4 separate regions of the Homo sapiens genome follow, and all the other regions are linked to region 2. Evidence: fine-mapped expression QTL. A gene starts in region 2. Each other region holds a variant in brackets. All regions are shown on one strand. Distances are from middle to middle. Region 1 has its middle 65 kb from the start of FAM81B. Region 2 holds the start of SKIC3 (SKI3 subunit of superkiller complex). Region 3 overlaps SKIC3 (SKI3 subunit of superkiller complex). Region 4 overlaps GPR150 (G protein-coupled receptor 150).

The links. PIP is the estimated chance that this variant, and not a neighbour inherited with it, causes the effect.
Region 1: its variant is fine-mapped to the expression of SKIC3 in cerebral cortex (GTEx, PIP 0.96). The same link has a PIP of 0.9 or more in caudate.
Region 3: its variant is fine-mapped to the expression of SKIC3 in whole blood (INTERVAL, PIP 0.96).
Region 4: its variant is fine-mapped to the expression of SKIC3 in sun-exposed skin (GTEx, PIP 0.95).

The regions. Positions count from the first base shown.
Region 1 is chr5:95,453,494-95,458,751 of GRCh38, forward strand. No RefSeq gene overlaps it. Among named protein-coding and RNA genes, the nearest start is that of FAM81B, 65 kb to the left of the region's middle. The variant A/T (reference allele first, on the strand shown) is at 1,962.
Region 2 is chr5:95,552,511-95,557,768 of GRCh38, forward strand. SKIC3 (SKI3 subunit of superkiller complex) reads right to left here and starts at 2,467. Exons shown (of 43, transcript NM_014639.4): 1 at 2,426-2,467. It overlaps ARSK (arylsulfatase family member K), which reads left to right and starts at 2,591. Exons shown (of 8, transcript NM_198150.3): 1 at 2,591-2,894. The coding sequence starts at 2,769.
Region 3 is chr5:95,520,818-95,526,075 of GRCh38, forward strand. It overlaps SKIC3 (SKI3 subunit of superkiller complex), which reads right to left. Exons shown (of 43, transcript NM_014639.4): 14 at 4,770-4,856; 15 at 4,581-4,684; 16 at 3,648-3,774; 17 at 2,838-3,017; 18 at 2,385-2,509; 19 at 1,237-1,490; 20 at 1. It also overlaps the pseudogene RNU6-308P. Among named protein-coding and RNA genes, the nearest start is that of SKIC3, 32 kb to the right of the region's middle. The variant G/A (reference allele first, on the strand shown) is at 2,053.
Region 4 is chr5:95,621,464-95,626,721 of GRCh38, forward strand. It overlaps GPR150 (G protein-coupled receptor 150), which reads left to right. Exons shown (of 1, transcript NM_199243.3): 1 at 1-679. The coding sequence ends at 117. It overlaps LOC112267933 (a long non-coding RNA gene), which reads right to left. Exons shown (of 3, transcript XR_002956221.2): 2 at 1,903-1,978; 3 at 1,390-1,572. Among named protein-coding and RNA genes, the nearest start is that of GPR150, 4.0 kb to the left of the region's middle. RefSeq lists an enhancer at 1-491 and a silencer at 195-254. The variant T/C (reference allele first, on the strand shown) is at 2,516.

The DNA.
Region 1 (5,258 bases), 99 kb before region 2:
CTTAAGAGCCATTGTTTCACAGTAAATTCACCTCTGTTCAAGGAACCAGTGGAGCACTGGGCCTCCCTCCCCTTGCATTTATTTTGACAGAAATCCAAAAAGATAAATAAAACTATCCTCCTAAAGAAGCTCAATATACATGGCACTTTATTCCATATCAAACAATATTACTTAATCCTTTGGGAAATGTCAGACTTCTCTTCCCACAAATATAGGATGATTGAGCACTGGAGAATCTGCAATCCAGATCCACGCTACAGACTTGAGGCATATGTTAAAATATGCTCAGGTAGTTTTTACTTTAAGTACAAACACCATTTAAACAGTCTTGAATAGTTAAGGGTCCTACTGCCCTTAAATTTCCTGTTGTTTCCTTCCTATTATCAACACCTGCTCTTAGAAAACATAGGAGAAAAGCCCCTTGACATTAGTTTTGACAATGACTTTTTGGATATAACACCAAAAGCACAGGCAACAAAAGTAAACAAGTGAGATTACATCAAATTAAAAAGTTTCTGCACAGCAAAGGAAACAATCAGCAAAATGAAAGAACCTATGAAATGGGAGAAAATATTTGCAAACCATATATCTGATGGGGAACTAGTATCCAAAAACATATAAGGAACTCAACAACTCAATAGCCAAAAACACAAATAACCTGATAAAAAAAATGGGCAAAGGACCTGAATAGATGTTTTTCCAAGAAGATATACAAATAGCCAACAGATATATAAAAACTCAAATGATAACAGGTGTTGGTGAGGATGTAGAGAAAAGGGAACCCTCGTGCACTGTATGTGGGACAATAAATTGGTACAGCCATTAGGGAAAACAATATGGAGGCTGTTCAAAAAAACTAAAAATAAAACTATCACATGATCCTGCAATCCCACTTCTGGAAAATAAAGTGAAAACAGTATGTCAAAGAGATATTTGCACCCTATGTTCACTGCAGCATTATTCACAATAGCCAAGATGCGGAAACCACCTGACAGAAGAATGGATAAACTGTCATCTATGTATATACATATATATATAATTCAGGTTTACAGAAGAAAGAAATCTTGCCATTTGCGACAACATGAGTGAACTTAGAGGGCATTATGCTAAGTGAAATAAGCTAGGTACAAAAAGCTAAATACTGCACAAACTCACTTACATGTGGAATCTCTTTAGAAATAAATGAAGAATAGAACAGTAGTTGCCAGAACTCATAGAAATAAACAGAGAATAGAACAGTAGTTGCCAGGGGCTGGGAGCCGAGGCAAATGGAAGATTTCAGTCAAAGGATACAAACTTTAAAGTTAAAATGAATAAATTCTGGAGATCTAATGTACAGCATGTGGATCATACTTAATAATGTACTGTCTATTTGAAATTTGCTGAGAGATCTTCAGTGTTCTTACCACACACACAAAAATGGTAACTATGTGAGGTGATACGTTAATTAGCTTGATTGAGGTATCACAGTGTATATTAAAACCCACAATGTACATCTTACATATGTAGAATAAAAAATTTTAAACTTGCTCTTTGGGGAAAAATCATATGAAATTATTCATACTGAGGACTAGATGGTCATGTTCAAAGTGTTTTACTTCTGCACTAAAAATTAAGGACAAATCCCTCCCCTTCTGCCACACAGGTAACTGCTTTCTCAGCCCCATTGTGAGGCATATATGCTTGCCATCTGGTAGTCAGGACAGCAGCAAGGCCCAAGACTTTGGTCAAAGAAACAGCATTCCCAGAGTACTCTAGACACCAGCAGCCCTCCCGTCTTCTAATTTTCCAAACATAGACTCCCTTCCATTGGCTTCACCCATAGTAGCAGCAAGTAGCATCCCAAAACACCAAGAAGGAAAAATTTGATCTATAGTACACACACACACACACACACACACACACACACAGTGCACATTGTTGCCTTACAAAAGGGATCTCCAAAGTTTTTGTGAAGTATT[A/T]CTATTTCTATCTTTCCAGCTTCCATACATCCATGGGCTAGCCACTGTGGATACAATATTGAACAACCTAAACACAAACCCTGCCTTCAGGGAATTTATAGTTTAGTGGAAAAGACCAACAATTAAAATCACAAATACATGGGAAAGTAGAGTGTAATGGGAGAGCCAGAGAGAGGAAACACATTCCCTGTGTTTACCAGAAACACAGGGAATCAGGCAGAGGGGTCTTCCAGAAGAAGGAGTATCTAAATTGAGACCTCCAATGTATAAGCAGACATAAGTCAAGGGAAAGAGGCTTGATTGGTAGAGGTGAGGGCTCAGGCAGATTGATCAGCCTGAGCAAAGGCCTGGAGGCCAAAAGAGAATGGGGATATATGCCAGAAATTGCAAGAAGCTCAATAAGTGTAGGTCAGAGCCTATGCTGTGTGTTAGGGGAGGTGAGTAGTGAGAGAGAAGGCTGGAGAAGTTAGGGAAAGTGGGGTGTCTAATCACAAAAGACTTTGTAACTCATATTGAGAAACTTGGGCTTTATCTTAAGGATCCAGAGTAGCCTTTAAAAGATCTTAAATAGGAGAGTGACAGATTTGCATTTTATAGAAAGATCCCTCTGGCTGCAGTGTAGAGAATACATTAGATGCAGTGTGGGAAGCAAATTTGGGTGGGAAAGGAGGGAAATAATACAGCAGAGAGGGGATAATGAGATGTTTTAAACTAATTGATTTTGAGGCATCTATGGGACATCCAAATGGAGATGTCCAGTGGTTAGTGAGAGAGCTGGGCCTGGAGCATGAGAGAAAGATCTGAACTGGGGATTTAGCTTTGGAAGTCACCAGCAGAGAAATGGTTACTGGAATTACTGGGGAGGAAGGCATTGCCTTGGTTAGGTGGGATAGGGGTTGGGGACATGAAGACTACAGTGAGAAGTAGAGACCAAGAACAACCTAACACTGAAGACACCTAACACTGAAAGAACAGCAGAAGAGTCCTGGGCGAGTATGGGGAGACGTGCAGCAGTAAAGTAGGAGAGGGAGTGTAATCATTTGAAGGTTTCAGTGTTCCTTGGGAGTTCCTGCTGGCAGACGGTGTCAGTAATCAACTTGAAGTTCTACTAGTATTACTTCAAGACCCACCATTAGTTTTCCATTTATCAAAGAGGACCCCAACCTACAGTGTAAACTTGACAAGGTATATTATGCAACACAGTGAAGAATAGTTACAAATGCTTTCTTGAGTCTCCTTCCATGCCATAAAATAAACATGCTGCATCTTCTCCAATGCAGAGAGGGTGGGGAGCCCTCCTTGAGAGAGGAAGGATGGTTGCCAGGAAAAACATTAGGCTGTTTTGGCCTCTACCTAATTAGGCATTTCCCTCTTCAGATTAGAGTTACACACACTTGTGTTAAGGGTTTAATATTATGTCAAATCGTTCCCTTGATATACAGTTATAAAAATGTGACTCCATAGACTAAATTTCCATAACTCTCTGTTCTTTTGTAGAGTTTTGCTACTTCCTTTCAGAAGATATTTACAAATACAAATGTGATGTTTACAAATCAGAAATCATTGATGAACTCAGCACTACGTCATAAACCAGGTCTTCCTCAACAGTCTCAAAAGATGCACTGAGAAAAGAGAAAAATAACCCAAACTTCTATGCTGAGAAGTCTTGAAGGGTCTTGTGGCCTAACAAGCCAGAGTTTAAACCCAGTGCCACCATTCATTAGCAGTGTGACTTTGGATATATTCCTTAATTTCAGAATCTCAATTTCCTTATCTTAAAATGGGGATAACAATACCTATCTTGTAGGCTACTGAGGCATTAGAAAAAACATTTATTGAGCTATCATCAGATATTAGAGATAGCTCAAAGTACTTTCCATAGATTAATGCATTTAATCTACCAGATGCCTATTACCGAGGCACAGAGAGGTTAGATAACTTATGTAAGGTCATATTGCCAGTAAAAGATAGAGCAAGGATTTGAACTCACAAGAACAGAGAACTTGTTCTTAAACATTATGCTACACTGTTTCTCTAAATATATGTAAACCATCTAATACTAGTGTCTGATACATAACAGGCACTGTACTTGATAAATGGTATTAATACAAGTAAACAGAGCTTTTTATCTTTATGGGAAAAGAAAGACAAGTTCCATGGTGCACTGGCATACAACTCTGATTCAGATTAGTATCTAAAAATACTTGAGCTTAAAAAAGATTCTTTTACTATGTATGAGAAGAAATACCTTGGCTTGCAATAATTCTAGCAATGGACAAAAGCAGAGGGAAGTACAAAATATAGATTTCTCCTGCAACAAACTATAATGTGGAACTATTCCTCTATTTTAAAAGCATTTCTTTCAATTGTCTCTGGAGAAGGAGGCTAACAGCTGAAGCAACATTATGGGCATTGACTGGAGGTGCACAAGATGCTGATGCTACTGTCCAGTGAAGGATGTTTCCTCCAAAAGTCCTGGCCATCAAAGCAAACCCAATAGCCATTACAGCCAGGTAAAAGCCATTAGTACTCATCTAGTAGGTCCTTCTACAAAAAAGTAATGCACTGTGTTCATAAGGCAAACATTCAGGGATAGACTTCAAATGGAGTGGGGCCTACATGGTACTGGACAAACCCCCTCCCCTACAACCCAAAATGACTCTTATACTAAAGAATCCGTGTAGTCTCTAGGCCAAAATTCTATCACATAGCACTTAACAGCTTCGAAGTATTCATAATACCAACATTAAATATTCAAAAAATGCAGGAATGGATGGATGGATAGGTAGAGGAAGAAAGAAAAGAATGAATGAATGAACATATACACACCCATGAGATTTTACCAACTATCTTCTCTGCGGGGATTAGTTGATAAAGAAAAAAAAAGTAAGGTCCTTTGTACCTTAACATGGGATGGCCAAAAGAAAGTTGAACTCTGGGAAGACAGGTTAGAAAAAGCCAAAGAGAAAACCAAGGGGCGGCATTTGTGATGTTATCAAGGATTAAATGATTAAATGAAACAATAAGCTCACTTCAGCCGGCTTATATCAACTTCAAAACGTAACAAGAGTGGAGTATTCTATTCTCTATCATTACATAGGCTTAAATTTGCAAAGTTAATCCTCGGGAGGAGGTTCCCTTCTTCCCAAGTTTCCTCCTAGAATTCAGATAGTACCAAAAGGTAAATGGCAGCATCTGAATACAGGTTTGTAGGATAACTAAGTCAGACTCAAAGATACACACCTCAACCTTTTTACATTTCTTTGAGTTGACAGCAATCATTAACAACATTTGACA
Region 2 (5,258 bases):
AGTGTTAACAAAAAAATGAGTGACTGAGGGAAGTGTCTCAATCAGTAGATGTTTATTGAGCCACACTTTGAGCACACGCCTGGGGAAAAACAAGCCACAGAAGCATCTGTGACCCACACTTTCCAAAGAGGGCTTTCGGAACTCAGTATTCTAGAGGAGAGCATGCAGGAGTGAAAAATGGCGGGAGGGAAGTAGGCAGTGAGGCAAATGGTTACATTCTCTTGAGTACCTTTTCTGATAGCATAGAATTACTGATTAGCAAAAATGTTGTACGTTCACAAAAGAGTAATCAAAACAATGAGGAAACCTGAAATTATGAGAACTAGCTGAAGAAACTGGGGACTAGGAAAAATAAATAAATGGTGGCGAGGGAGTTGGGGGAAGGACTGTTGAAAGGGAGAGATTATCCATGTAAAAGTGAAGAAAAATGCACTAATGAATGGTTAAAAATAGAGGAAGATTAACTTCAACTTAAAATAGGAACTTTTAATGAGACCTATATAAATGTGGAATGAGGTACTCAATGGAAGTGTTTCCCATCACTGGAGATGAAAAAGCACAGGCTGGACAATCCACTCAGCAGGAATGTTTTAGGATAAACTGAATGTCAGATGGGAAGTAGGACTAGAAGCCTCTTAGATTCTTCCAGCACAACGTCTCTAAGGCTCTAAAATATCTGTCTTGCTCCAAATCACTGCAGCACCTGCTCCTATTGACACTGCCAAGGGGAGAAAGAAGAAAAAGATGTATTCTTGTAAGCCTGTCATCAGAGTACATGTCCTGTGGAAACAAGGCTGTAGAGAGTAAGCACAGTTTATGGAATCAGACACAAAATTAAATATAACTTTTATGAATTTAAATGTCAGTCAATATTGTCACTATGGTAGAAAATACGTTCTACATTCCAAATTAACTCAAAACAAATTTGTTTTTATGAGAGAGCCCACTTGTATTACCTTCCGTGCTGTATTATTATTTCATGTATGCTTGGTTTTGCTTCCCTGAAATCTAAACTCATGTAAACTGAGACTATTGTTTAGGGGTTTTTTTGTTTTTGTTTTTTTTTTGAGATGGAGTTTTGCTCTTGTTGCCCAGGCGGAGTGCAAAGGTGCGATCTCAGCTCACTGCAACCTCCACCTCCTGGGTTCAAGTGATTCTCCTGCCTCAGCCTCCCTAGTAGCTGGGATTACAGGCGCCCGCCACCACGCCCAGTATTTTGCGTATTTTTCGTAGAGACGGGGTTTCACCATGCTGGCCAGGCTGGTCTCGAACCCCTAACCTTCGGTGATCCGCCCGTCTCGGCTTCCCAAAGTGCTGGGATTACAGGCGTGAGCCACCGCGCCCAACACTGTTTACGTTTTTGCATGCTCCCGCAGATCTTTATCATGCTGCTTGAGTAACAATTCTGCTACACTAACAGATAAACTAACTGCAGACAGAGCATTTAGTGAGTTACGGCACAGACTCTTCAATTTTCAGTCGTGCTCTGACTGGCTCCCTGTGTAAACTCAGGCCAGTCATTTAACCTCTCTAAGCCTGTTTTCCTATCTGCAATATGGTGAAAGTGAGGATTATAGAAAATATTCCATATAAAAGTACGTGGCACGCAGCAGATGCTCAGTAAATGCTTAGTATAACGCTCAGCACCTAAGTGCCATGTGAGTATTAAATAAACAAATCTGTTCCTTACTACAATTATCTTAGGCAAAAAAAAACCTGCCAGATATTAGTATTCAGTTGACTTAAGTAAGTAGTATAACTCCTCTTTTAACTGTCAGAATATTAAAACTACTAGTGTGATGTGCAAATTATATACCCGAAACTAGATACAGAAATTGGAATTTGGCTTTGGGACAGAAATCTGCTTCTTCCAGAACTCTCCAAAGGAATTCAACAGTCAAAAGAGACCGGTTTTTATTCTGCAGCAAAACAATGATATTCTGAACCTACGTCAACTAACTGAACATGTCACACAGCCCATTTCCCCCTCCAGTTTCGCTTATCTCCTTTGCTCTCTGAAGGCAAGGAACAGCTATGCTTTCCCCTGCCTACAGCCTGAAACTTCTTACTAGGCCCCGCTCCTCGCCCCATGGGAGCACAGTAAATCCTGACTGCACGGGGTAAGAGAAGCAATAAGATGAGACAGGCTAGAGATTTCCCTGGGAAGGTATTCGGGGGGGTCTAAGGCATTCACGGCGCACCTGAGGCGGTCCACCCAGAGGCCCCACAAGGCACCGCCCTATTCAACTTAAGTGACAGCCGCGCCGCCACCTCATCGCCGCCCAGTTCACGCTCTCGCCGAACACTCAGCCACGCTTGCGCGGCCCAAAATGAACAGCCCCGGCCCCGATCCTTTCTTTCTCTAAGTACCATTTCAATCGCCTTTAGGATCCCTTGTGCAAAACCGACAGAAATCCAAACCCACCTGGAGCAGATGCTCCTCTTCTACAAACGCCGAGGCTGCAATGAGAGCGCATGCGCCTTTCCCAGGACTCATTCACGTGACTGGAAGTGGCTGGGTTCTGATTTGCTCGGTATTTGATTAAAAGGTCTTAACGTGGGTAAAAGCGGGAATTTCTCTGTTGCGCATGTGCGCGCTCTCCGCCTGATAGGAGTTGTAGTTCTGCGGGTGAAGCTCGGCGTTACTATCAAGCAACCAAACTGCAAGCTTTGGGAGTTGTTCGCTGTCCCTGCCCTGCTCTGCTAGGGAGAGAACGCCAGAGGGAGGCGGCTGGCCCGGCGGCAGGCTCTCAGAACCGCTACCGGCGATGCTACTGCTGTGGGTGTCGGTGGTCGCAGCCTTGGCGCTGGCGGTACTGGCCCCCGGAGCAGGGGAGCAGAGGCGGAGAGCAGCCAAAGCGCCCAATGTGGTGCTGGTCGTGAGCGACTCCTTCGTAAGTACCGCGAGGCAGGGGAGGGGCGCCCCGCTGGGGATCGGCGACCTCACCGCCGCCGCCTGTGCTGCAGGCTTTGGGGAGCAGAACCTGAGACATTTTCAAACACCTTTTACCCCGATGCAAAGAAAGAAATACATTTTATGTGAGGCCCCGTGTACTCACACGTACACCACATACCTATGCAAACATGTAAAACAATAGTGAAACACTGAAAACATCTTTGCAGATCTTTTTTTTTTAATACTGACCTCGATTCGCTAAATTATTTTACCACGACTAATGAACTTTCAGTCCATACCCCCGTTTGGTTTAATTGTGTGGTAAAATAACATTCTGCATCTCCATAAAAGCGTGTTAGCTTTCCAAAAGTCATTTTCCAGTTCACCTCAAGTTTGCAGGAATTCATGTTTGGGTGAGAAGTGAAGAAAGTTTATTTTTATTACCCAGGTCTGTGATAATCCTGTTAGTGCTGATTCAAATGGAATCGTTGGTATAACTTGATTCACTCCCCCGTATTCCAGAGAAATTGTGTGTATGTGTGTGTGTTGGTAATGTGGCTGAATCCCAAACTTAAACAGTTTTTGAAACTTTCCCAAGCCAAAGGTGCTACTGTCAACCTTACGCGATGCTTTTAGGATGATCCATGTTTTAAAAAGTGCTGCTTAGACAATTGTTTGGTTATTAATTGTAATATTAGTTTATTATCACTCGGTGTTACTGTGGTCACACAGATGTTGGTGTTAAGCATATCTGGCACTAAAGAGTGTTTGTAATCATATGTTGTATTTCCTTTCTCGTAGATTCCTGATGATTAAAATTACATAGTCTGGATGTGCCCATGGGATTTTTTGAAAATATTACTTAAAGTTATCTTTGTGATTTAAACTTAGAGAATGGGCAGTACTGGAAATTGACTAGATGGCATTTTATTACAGAGTGCTCTTGTAATCAAAGGCAAATGAAGGAAGCAGGATTGTGCAGAGGAGAAGCTGAATTTTGTTGCCATCTTATGAATGACAGTTCTCAAACTAGTATGGTGCTTCAGAGCTGCTTTCCAATAGGAGTGAGGAGAACAGACCTTTCCACCTGCATGTTGGATGGCCACTGGTTGTGGGCTGCTCCTAGAATGGGGCATGGTGTTGGGCAAAGCAGCTGTCTTCAGCAGAGGCAATTGTTCATTCCTAAAAGGGAATCCGAATGTGGATCACAACATCCCAGAAACTTCCAAAGATGACTGAGATATATAGGTTTGTTATTTTTTTTAGTGTAGTATGAATGCATAGATTTTTCTATATTTGTGCTTAAATTTTTTGCATTCACGGCCGGGCGCGGTGGCTCACGCCTGTAATCCCAGCACTTTGGGAGGCCGAGGTGGGCGGATCACGAGGTCAAGAGATCAAGACCATCCTGGCTAACACAGTGAAACCCCGTCTCTACTAAAAATACAAAAAAATTAGCCGGGCGTGGTTTCGGGCGCCTGTAGTCCCAGCTACTCGGGAGGCTGAAGCAGGAGAATGGCGTGAACCTGGGAGGCGGAGCTTGCAGTGACCTGATATCGCACCACTGCACTCCAGCCTGGGCGACGGAGCGAGAGTCCGTCTCGAAAAAAAAATAAAAATAAAAATAAAAAAATTTTTAAAAAATAAAAAATAAAAAAAATTTTTGCATTCACATACTTGTTAATATTCAAACTGTCCTATCTTTGGCCAGTGGAAGCCCCTTCAGGTGGTTCTGAGTCCTTTTGACCCATCCCCATTAGTATTTGACAGCTTGCTTTAACAGAGTTCCATGTCCACAATACATATTTCCTGTCCCATCTTGTATTTAGAGACCACAGTCTGAGTGTTAGGGTGTTCATTGCATCTAGACCTTTCCAGTGGACAAATCTAGAAAGTATATAATATTTTAGAATGAGAAAAATAAATTGTGAGATCATACTGATACTTTCCATTCAAATTTAAGATTACAAGTTTATTCTTTGATTTTTATACTTATATCTTTTTTGTTTTATGCCAAATATTTTGGTCTAAATGCATTAATGCAATTACTTATTTGCTTTATCCAAACATATAATATGTATATATCAATGTGTTTGAAAATAAGACTGTAATATTACTAGAAATAATGCTAGTCCTGAGTGCAGCTTACAGTTTCTTTGAAGTTTTTGTTTTAGGTATATTCAACTATATAGTAAAAATGTTGGTCTTTAAACTTAAAATAATTCCTCTCTCTATGATTATACCAGTTTGGTATGCTGTTAGATTCTTGACACTGTGATTTATCATTTCTAAAACTCTGCAGGCTAAGATAGAGCAGTTAAGCTGGATAATAATTGTAGGAAGAAAATAGCAAATTGGTTTT
Region 3 (5,258 bases), 32 kb before region 2:
CCTAAAATCAGGTAAGTTTGTCACTGTTATTAAAACATATAAAATAAACACTTAAAATGAACTTCAAATAAAGTTATTGGTGTTATTTTAAAGCACTTTCCAGAAAATAAAACTTAACGGTGTGTTATAAAATTATCTTAAAGCATGATCCTACATTCACTCAATAAGAAATTCAAATGGAAGAATTCTGTTGGAGTAAACATGCACTAGAAGTTATAAAAAAGTTATCTACAGAACCCAAGAATTTCCTTGACTTTGGGCAAGTTACTTACCTGCTAAAACTTTGGCTACAAAAAATGTGGATATTATCTATATGTTACTCTCCATGATATTACTACTTATTAACTATTGTGAAACAAGATATGATCTTTTTATATTAAAATCTGTATAGCAAGCTATACTATAAGAATTAAATGAAATAGTGATTACCTAAAGTTCCTAGTAAAGATTTCTTAAATGTGAGTTCTCCTTCTCTTGAGGAAAGAGTTTTACAAAATTAAAAAAAAAGTTTCAAGCCCTAAGTTATATGTCATATACAATATACTATTTATGTGCTCACTTCAGCAGCACATATACCAAAACCGGAATGATAAAAAGAAGATTAGCATGGCTACTGAGCAAGGATGACACAAAAATTCATAAAGCATTCCTTAAGAAAAACAAACAGAAAAAAAAAACCAGTTTCTTTAAAAAGGAGAAAGAAGGAAATGGAAGAAAGTAAGCATATATAATGAGCTCCCAGCTTTTTTAATACAATCATTACAAATGTAGGTTATATATGGATGGTGGTATTTTATTTTATATTACCAAAAATAACTTAGATAACTACAAAACAATGCAAGTTGTCTCTGAAGTTTAAAAAAAATTTAATGAGCTTGTATAACTTACAAAGTAATTAAAGGTATTAAGATATTCTGGAGACATGATGAATTAATTATCAAAATGTAAGAGTAGGGAAACATGTTTTAGAGATCAATTTTTAGATCTAATAGTTATCATACTGTTTGTCTAAAAGTTAAATCTCTGTCACATTACTATTTATTAACTTGTGAAACAAGATTTGATCTTTTTATATTCAAATTTATATAAGCTATACTGTAAGAGGTTCATATGGATGCTTGCTGTTGACTAAAGAAGTCCTTTTCAAGTTATTCAATACATTTAGGCAGGAAATCTACTCAAGGATTTTATACTTCAGGATCATAAAAGTCAAAGGAGCTACTAAAAATAAATTACCTTTTAAAGCAGGCACATAATCTTCTTTCTTTTTAATGATCATCTGGTATTGAGCTACAGCCTCCTTATATTTGCCTAGGATTTGCTGTATTGCTGCAACCTTAAACACACTGTATATGGATTCTGGGTTCAGCTCACTGGCTTTTGTGAAGGACTTCAAGGCTGTTGTGTAGCCTCCTCTGCTTAAGTATGCTTCTCCTAACGATTCCCAACAATTGAAGTCCTTTGGGTCTGCTCTTAATGCTGCCTGTAAACTAAAATTTAAAAAACCGTAAGAGAACTAAAAGTATGGAACTATCTCCAAATCTGAAAGGAAAATATAAAATAAATAATTCAAGTAAACATATATATCTGTGGCTCCTTCTACTTATAAAAGTGCTATTTAAAGCAGATAAATTTGTTCCTTTTATGATTTTTTTAATGCTAAGAAATGTTATTTTAATTTCAGAATAAGAATAAAATGCTTTTTTTGAAAAAGTGCTGAACAAAATTTCTTTTCCTTGATTATCTTGAAGAACTCGAGTTTTCTATCCTACCAGGACAGGTGTCCATCTCAGTTTGTCACATCAGCCCATAATCCCCCACCAGCAATCCTTTTACCAAACAGAAATACCACAGTTAAAATATGGAAACAATAGGCATGCTTTAAATATCTGATCAAATTCCATTTCCGTGAAAATGCCTGTACTCTAGATACTAACATAAACCAGAAACAATTTTATTTTGATTCAAATACATTTATTTACATTTAAGTACTGTTCAAATCAAATGACTCAAATTGATCATATATGAGCTGCTCCCAATGCCCTTTAAGCT[G/A]CCAAATGTCTCCCTTGCCAAAAACAATGTGTGTCAGCAGAACAACAAAGATATGTACCTCAGCTTCTCATCACTAAAATTTCTATTGAGAACTACTATACATATGTATTAAGACTTCAATTCACTAATCTGGCTATCTCCTCAACAACAGGACACCATTTAATCCATCTCTGCAATTCCACTGCCCTGCAAACAATAAACACCAATCAATCATAAAGTAATTTTGTTATTTCTTCTCTCAAAATACAACCTGGTAAGAGACAATTAAAATGCTTAATTTAAGGAACCGTTATGCTTGTCTAACATAGTTTAAATACAATAAGGTGCCTTACTCAGCCACTGCTTGAGAATGCTGACCAGCTTTCAAATAGTATAGTCCTCGCCTAAGCCAGGCCCATTTTGCCGTTCCAGCACTTGCCTTTTGAGTTACTGTTGTTAGGATAGCTAAAGCCATTTCCTAATAATAAGAAAATACTAATATTAGATATATTGAACATTATAAAAAGACAGAACGCTCATGTAAAGTACACAAACATATTTTCATTTCTCACTTCTGATTTTTTAAACTTACACTGGTATACATCAAATTACAGTTTCAACAATAAGTGGTTAGTAATTTAATATCTGCCAATGGAAAAAAACTTCACTTACAGAGGCAAAAATATTTATATTGCACCTATAGAAAAAAAACTAATGATAACTTTCAAGTATACATATATAAAAATATTTTCATTTATATACTCAGGATAAAAAAAACAAAAAGCAAAAGTGATTATTAGACATACCATATCTTCAAGCTCCACACTTAGGTCAACTGCTGCAGCTCCAGATTCAGCATCAGTGTCATCTAATTCAAAGGCTTTCCTATAACATCCACGAGCTCTGTTTTTATCTCCCACTACGTCTCTATAATAATGACCTAAATAGCAGAAAACTTTGCCCATATATGTATCCAGTCTTGCAGCCTTTGAAATAAATATTGATAATAACAGAACATTAAAAGTTCATTTAATGAGTATCTTTACAAATACAGAAGATAAATACACAGATTAAAGAAAAAAGAAATAATTTCATTAAACATACAAAAATATGCCAAAAAATCCTTTGATGTAAGATTTAAAACAGACAGGAAAGCTGTCCCTCACTGCTTATAGAAAGTAAAAGGAAATATAAAAATATTTTGTTTTTTGGTAAAGGAAATGTGAAATTAGAGCTGCTACTGAATTAATCTGCTCTTACAAGTCAAGATAAGAATGTAGGACTTATAGATGTTAAACATCTAAAAAAACAGGAATTTAAACATCTAACTTGTATGCTCATAAAACTACAGTGAAAATTACCTTAAAAGTATTGTTTACAAGAGATAATTATGTCTCGTTTTCTACAACACATGCTTTTCAAAAAGTAACTTTCACATTTTATGTTTTAATTTTTTCCTTGAAAACCCATATAACACCATCACAAAACCTGACATATGAAAGATAAAGCACAAAAAACAGTTCAGTAAAGAGTAATTGTAACTAATGTATATGATTATTATTTATGATTTTATAATGCCATTTCAACTAGGAATTGAATTGTAGCACTTGCTTTACCTTCAGAAAGTGGGTAAGAGCCTTTGTTTTATCTTTTCTTGTCTCTTCACCCATGAACCAGTATGTTAATCCAAGTTGGTAATGATATTCTGCAACTTCGGTATCTTTCTCAAGAGCTCTCTGAAAACTAAGCCACCAAAGGGTAATAAAAAGAAATAGTAAAACAAATACACACACACCCACACGCAATATAGGAGACTCCTAGTTGGAACAATCAAAGTTTGAGTGATTCAGAGGTGCCAAATTAGAAACCAATCATCACTTTAGGATTTATATTATCATAAGGAAAAAAGTGATTTGTTTTTGAAGAAGAGGATCTTAAAAAAGCACAGTGGCCTTTTAGCACTACCATGTGCTAAGTGTTCAGACTATACTGAACATTACATCTGCTTAGTGAACATTATGATCAGCTGATTAGATTTTTTTTTTTATTTTTTGAGTCCGAGTCTTGCTCTGTCATCCAGGCTGGAGTACAGTGGAATGGTCCTGGCTCACTGCAACCTCCACCCCCCAGGTTCAAGCAATTCTCGTGCCTCAGCCTCCTGAGAAGCAGGGACTACAGGCATGTGCCACCACGCCCAGCTACTTTTTGTATTTTTAGTAGAGATGGGGTTTCATCGTGTTGCCCAGGCTGGTCTTGAATTCCTGCGCTCAAGAGATCACCTGCCTTGGCCTCCCAAAGTACTGAGATTACAGGTGTGAGCCACCACGCCCGGCCAAGATCAGCTAATTAGATTTGAAACCCATCATATAATTTTTTATAGCTACTGTACTACATGCTAAATACATTTCTTTAAAATACTAAAACTTAAAGCCTACAAAGATCAAATTCATGAAAAATCAAATCTTCATCAAGCCTACTCATTTTGAATTTTTCAGAAATATAAAGAACTAAGATGTAAATGGTTCTATGAGCAATTTATATATCCTTACCATTTTTCTGCTTGTAGATAGTCCTTTTTGGTGAAATGAATCAAAGCCTCAAGGGCATGAACTTCAGCTAGGTCAGGGTAAGAAGAGAGAAGGTCTTCCATAATCTATAAAGTAGACACCTGTCAATTCTATAGCCAAATAAAAATGCTTTTAACTCAAAAAATGCTCAGTTTGAATAAAAAAGCCAACCTTTGCAGCTTCATCAAATGAACCTTTGTTCCGATAGGCCAAGCTTTTGAGAACCAAAAGTCCTGGGATATTATCTGCATCAGAAATCTAGAAAATAATTGTAAAGAACTGCTATAAATCTCCTTCAACACAACCACAGCAATGTTTGCTTTAATTAACGAACGAACACAGAAAAGCATGGTCCTAATAGAATAAAGAAATAGAGGTCCTGATTTCTATCACTAATAACACATCTTCACTCTTCATAACCTTTTTATTAAGGAAAATCTCATATACATAAAAAAATTACAGAAACTAGTATAATAAACCCACATGTACCCATCATCCAGCTACAAAACCACAAACTCACAAGCAATCATTTTTTTCATCTATACCTCCACTAATTTTACCACACTTCTGCTCAGATGATTTTGACACAAATCCCAGATATTGTAACTTTTTACCTGTAATACTTCAGTATCTATATCTAAAAGTTCATTTCTAAGTTGC
Region 4 (5,258 bases), 69 kb after region 2:
CGCTGGCCCCACCCTCATTATCACCATGCTCGGCGGGAACCGCTGGACGAGGGCGGCTTGCGCCCACCCCCTCCGCGCCCCAGACCCCTGCCTTGCTCCTGCGAAAGTGCCTTCTAGGTGCTTGGTGGTCAGAGACGGGTCATCTGTCGCTAAGGCGCAACCTCCAGGGAACTCGAGGCCTGCCAGGGTCTGTCCAGATCACAAGGGGCAGGAGAGTCTGTGAGAGAGTGACACTGAAGTTGTCCCCTTCCTCCACTCTCCTATTCCCTTCTCATGTTTACATTTCCCTATGCTCTTCCAGTTTCTCTTCTTCCCTACAGTTCCTCTCATATCTCCCCATTTGGAGACAGTGAGCCACTGGAAAGTTGTAAAAACAAAAACAGTTATTTTTGCAGTTTTCTTTCACGCATTTATAGTGCTCTGGATAATGCCATTTATTTTTGCTGATTACCCAACTTTCAGTATTTGCTGTGTTATCATCTGTATTTACTTATTTTGAATCGTGCTTAAATCAAATGTACCTTCAGCACCTGCAAGTTTGCCTTTTCTTTCCAGGAGGAAAATCCCCACGTTGCTCTCCCTGGGGAGTCTGAGAATTATACCAGTGCTGTCAGAAATGTAATCATGCTGTCATTTCAGAGCCACAGAGTATTTATAAAATAAAAACCTTTCCCACGGAGCAATTGGGACTTTTTTTTTTTTAACATAGTAATGTATTTTCTCAGAAGAAAATCAGCGTGGCCTTTATTTCCAGTCTAGTTTCCACTTCAACAGAAGCTGAGGTTGTAGGAAGGAAACAAAAGCTTGACTTGGTGTCTTTCAAATATACTTGGTTTCTGTTGGAAATCGTCCCTGTGCCCCCAGCAGCCTCTAAAGGTGTAATGCTATGCCCAGATGGAGCCTCTCCGTACAAAGTCCCCAGCAAACCAGAGAAAGGAAGCTTCAAGGTGGTGCATATGGGTGGGGCTCAGTGTCCCAGATGGAGCCTCAAAGAGATTTGCAGCTAGGAAGGAAGTCAAAACCTCAGAATGCTGCATGTGTATATAAAACTCCCTTGTTAAAAAAATGAATTCAATGCCTGTTGGTGTGGATAGCTGAGAACAAGGTCAAGAGCGGATTTGATCAGTAACCTCTTCCTCTCAACTGTTCTTGGTTCTAGACAGAAGTGGCAGCACTTATGAACAATATATCCATGGGTTTATCAGTGATTTTTGTATGAGGATCTAAAGCTTTCCATTATAGTGTTTCTTGTTCATGCACAAATGCAGACCTAAGATGCAGAAAGGGGAAATGATTGTTTAAAGCTCTTTGTAGAGCCAATGCTGAGGGCTGTTTTGTTCACTAATATATTCCAAATGCTTAAACAATGCTTGACATGTAGTAGGCTCTCAATATATATTTGTTGAACAATTCATCATGTGAGTTAGAGATAGAACAAATAAAAGATATACGAAAGAAAATCTTTACTAAGCTTTCTTTACCTTCCTCCAAAATTTTGACAGCAGATGTTCCAGAGTTGTAGCTTTTCCTTCCTCTCTTTGTTCCTCCTTACCCTGTTGAGGATGCAATGGTCTGCAAAATACCAGGAATAAATCAGCCAAAGAGAGGATACAGTTGTCTTCATGAACCCAAGTCTAGATTATACCATTATTTATTCATTAATAAACATTTATTACCTGCTTATTTTGTGCCAGTTAATAAGCTAGGCATTGGAGATGCTGAGATGAATAAGTCACATTTTTCCCTCAAAGACGTTATAGTCAAATGTAGGAAACAATCTGACAATTACACTGCAGTGTCACCTGTGTTATAACAGGGGAATTCAGTCAGGGTGCCAGAAGAACTGAAGAGGAGAATCTGACAATCTTGGGGGACTATGAGGGGACATTAGGAAAGACTCACCAAAAGAAGCTCTTGAAGGCTGGTTTGGGGGTGACCCTTCAGGTCAGGAAAGGTGTTCTAGGCAACGGGAATAGCACTGCAAAGCATAGAAGAGACAGAACATAGCATAGTCAAGTAATGACAATAGCTTTAGGGTGCCTTTGGGGCCTGACCTAATGAGATACGTGGTCAGAGAAATTCAGCCTGGCCCCAGTGAAGACAGGTCTGTGTGCCAAGCCAAGAAAGCAAAAAGTAGCCTTTGAAGAATTTAATCAGTTATAATTTGACCCAATTTCAATTTTAGAAAGGTCATCTCAATGATGGCATGAAGGATCACCAAATGGAAGGGTAGGGGGGAATTCTTAGATGAGAAATCAAGGCAGAATCTCAGAGAGTCTTCAGAATACGATTCCTAATGTTGGACCACTTCGAATGCGCTCAAGAGAGATAATAAATTTAAAGCAGCTGAGACAGGTTTTCTGTTTTCTGCAGTTAAGACTACCCTAACAGAAAAGCTTACTCAGCTGGCTTCAACTTATTATTTCACATGACAAGAAGTCTGGTGGTAGGGCTGTGCCAGGGTTGGTTAAGTAAGTAGCTCAACTTCATAATCAAGGGCTGTGACGGTTAATTT[T/C]ATGTGTCAACTTGACTGGGTTAAGGGATGCTCAGATAGCTGGTAAAACATCATTTCTGGGTGTGCCTGTGAGGGTGTTTCCAGAAGAAATTAACATTCAAATCGTAGACTGAGTGAAGAAGATCAATCCTCACCAGAGGTGGCAAGCATCATCCCATCTGTTGAGGGCCCACCCAAATAGAACAAAAAGACAAAGGAAATGTGAATCCTCTCTCTCTCTTCTTGGGCTGCGACACCCATCTTCTCTTGTCCTTGGACAGTTCACTTCTGTTCTTGGGCCTTCAAACTCCAGGATTTATACCAGCAGCACAAACCCCCACAGCCCCCATTCTCAGGCCTTCAGACTCAGACTAAATTTTACCACCAGCTTTCCTGGTTCTCCAGCTTGCAGACAGTATATGGTAGGACTTTTGGGCCTTCATGGTCACGTGAGCCAATTCCCGTAATACATCTCCTCTTATATATCTATATAAATGCTATTGGTTCTGTTTTTCTGGAGCAGCCTCACTCATACAAGGGCTCAGATCCTTTTCCTCTTTCCAGTCTGCCATCTTGAGTGGTGGACTTGACACTCAGGCCAGTTCCCCTTGAGGTCACAAAATGGCTGCTGCAATTCCAGGCATCACATTCAAATGTAACAATGTCCAGAAGAAGAAGGATTTCTCTTTTTTGTACCCTTTATAGAAATGAAACAACATGTCTCAGAAGTCCCCAGTAGACTCTCCTAAATGGCTCATTTGCCAGAACTATATCACATGTCCATATTTAGACCTATCATTGCAAGAGAAATGGGGCCACCATGATTGGCTTGAACATGGAACTGAGCATATGAATTGTATTGAGGGAGGGATGAAAAAACTGAGGCTCTACAGTAAAGAAAGAAGAGGAAATGCTAGTTAAAAAGGCAAGAATAAAACTTTTAAACTATTGCAAAAGTGTTATCTAGATTGGTTTTTACAATACAACAGGGGTATTCAGCTCATTGTTACCTAGAAATTTTGAGAATTCTTCATCTGGGTTGGAAATATAGAATACCAACTCAAGAAGTTAATTTGAAATCCGATTAAACTGATGTTTTCCTAGATTTTGTAGATTTAGTTAAGCCCAATTTATACGGAAATGCTTCTCTTCTTTAAGCAAGGAATTTCCTCTAATTTTAACCATATCTGAAACTTGAATACATAACTAGATGACTTGGTTCCCATCCCTGGAGGCATTTGTAGGTTAGGAAATTTGAGATATTTCCTCAGGATGGCCATCCTATTTGTGTTGACCCTAATCTGCATTTCTAGAGGCAACACAGAGATTCAGCTGTGTCCTAGTCAAGGAGGCCCCTGAAGGTTATTCAGATTTAGACTCTTGCTAGAGTAGAACATAATATTCACATCACACAGCAAAGGCAAATACACAGGTTGACCCCGAAATTGCTCTCTTTTCTAGGTTATCACCCAAATAGGAAACGACTAGAAGAGAAACCAGATCTACACACTTGCAGTTTGGAAGAAATCAAAGTTGCCCTATAAAATAGAGACAAACCATTCCTCTATTCTCTACATTTTTTGGAGTTAGATTTTAACCAAACTACTGCACACAGGACTTCAGGGAGCACTTTTCATATTGATGAAGATGTGAACATCACCAGCAGAACTGAGCAATGTGGTGGTCCTGATTTTATAGAACTTTAAAGACTAAATGCAAAGAATTCTACATCTTAAAGAAAAACCTCAGTAACATAAGGCCAAAATAAGTAAATGTGACTTATGTTGTAATTTGAAATGCAAAGAATGCAGAAAACATCCAGGAGTAATAAACCACACTAGTGATTAGTTATAAACAATATTCAAAAAATAGAATAGTCTGGCTTATCTTGTGGAAGACAGATTTAAAGCATTTTTTTCTAAGGTATGTCCTAAGAAACACAGAAGATGTTAGAAAATTTGAGGAGTTTGCCTTCTATTCCTAAAAATGTTCTGACTTGATCAAAGGGAAAATATTCTAATAAAAATGAATTGTTCTTCTTAAATTAAAATATATTTTGCTGAGTTGGGAGGCAATATAATATTATGAAAAGAGTAGAATATTCAGAGTCTAAAGACCTGAACTTGACTTTCATCTGTACAGTTAGTAGCTGTGTGACTTCAGGCGGTTTGCTGAATATTTTTGAGTCTTGGTTTTCTCATCAAGAAAATAGGAGTTAATACTATGTCCTTCATAGGATAATGTACGCAAAATATTTGATTGGGTGGAGGTAAGGGGAATCTAGGTTTGTTTCTTCAGATTCCCTCAATACATGATAGCTAATGTTATTTTCTAATACTGGCTATGAGGGATAAAAATCCAATTGAATAATATTACATGAAGGAAAGCAATAGATCTTGGAGAATTGTCATGGAAAATTAATGCAGCAATGGTAGTACTTAAAAGTAGGGAGTTGGGCCTTACAGAAGGAGTAGTGGGCATTGTTCATTGCCTTCCTAGCATTTATTTCTCCTTTTCTGACAGTTCTCAGATTCTTATTAGAATGTCTATACCTTTTATAAAAAGTCAGCACTTTGAGGAAACCTCGGTGCTCTCCAACTCCAAGACTGTGACTTGATTAGTCCATGCCACTGGAGTAATTTCTCATCCCTCTCGCCACCATATCTCGCTCAGGAATGGTCATGGGATGCAATGAGAGTGAGGGAAGTTTTTTAGGGAATCTAGGAAGGAATCTTTTAACTCTTCTGGGAAAGCCATAGAAGTT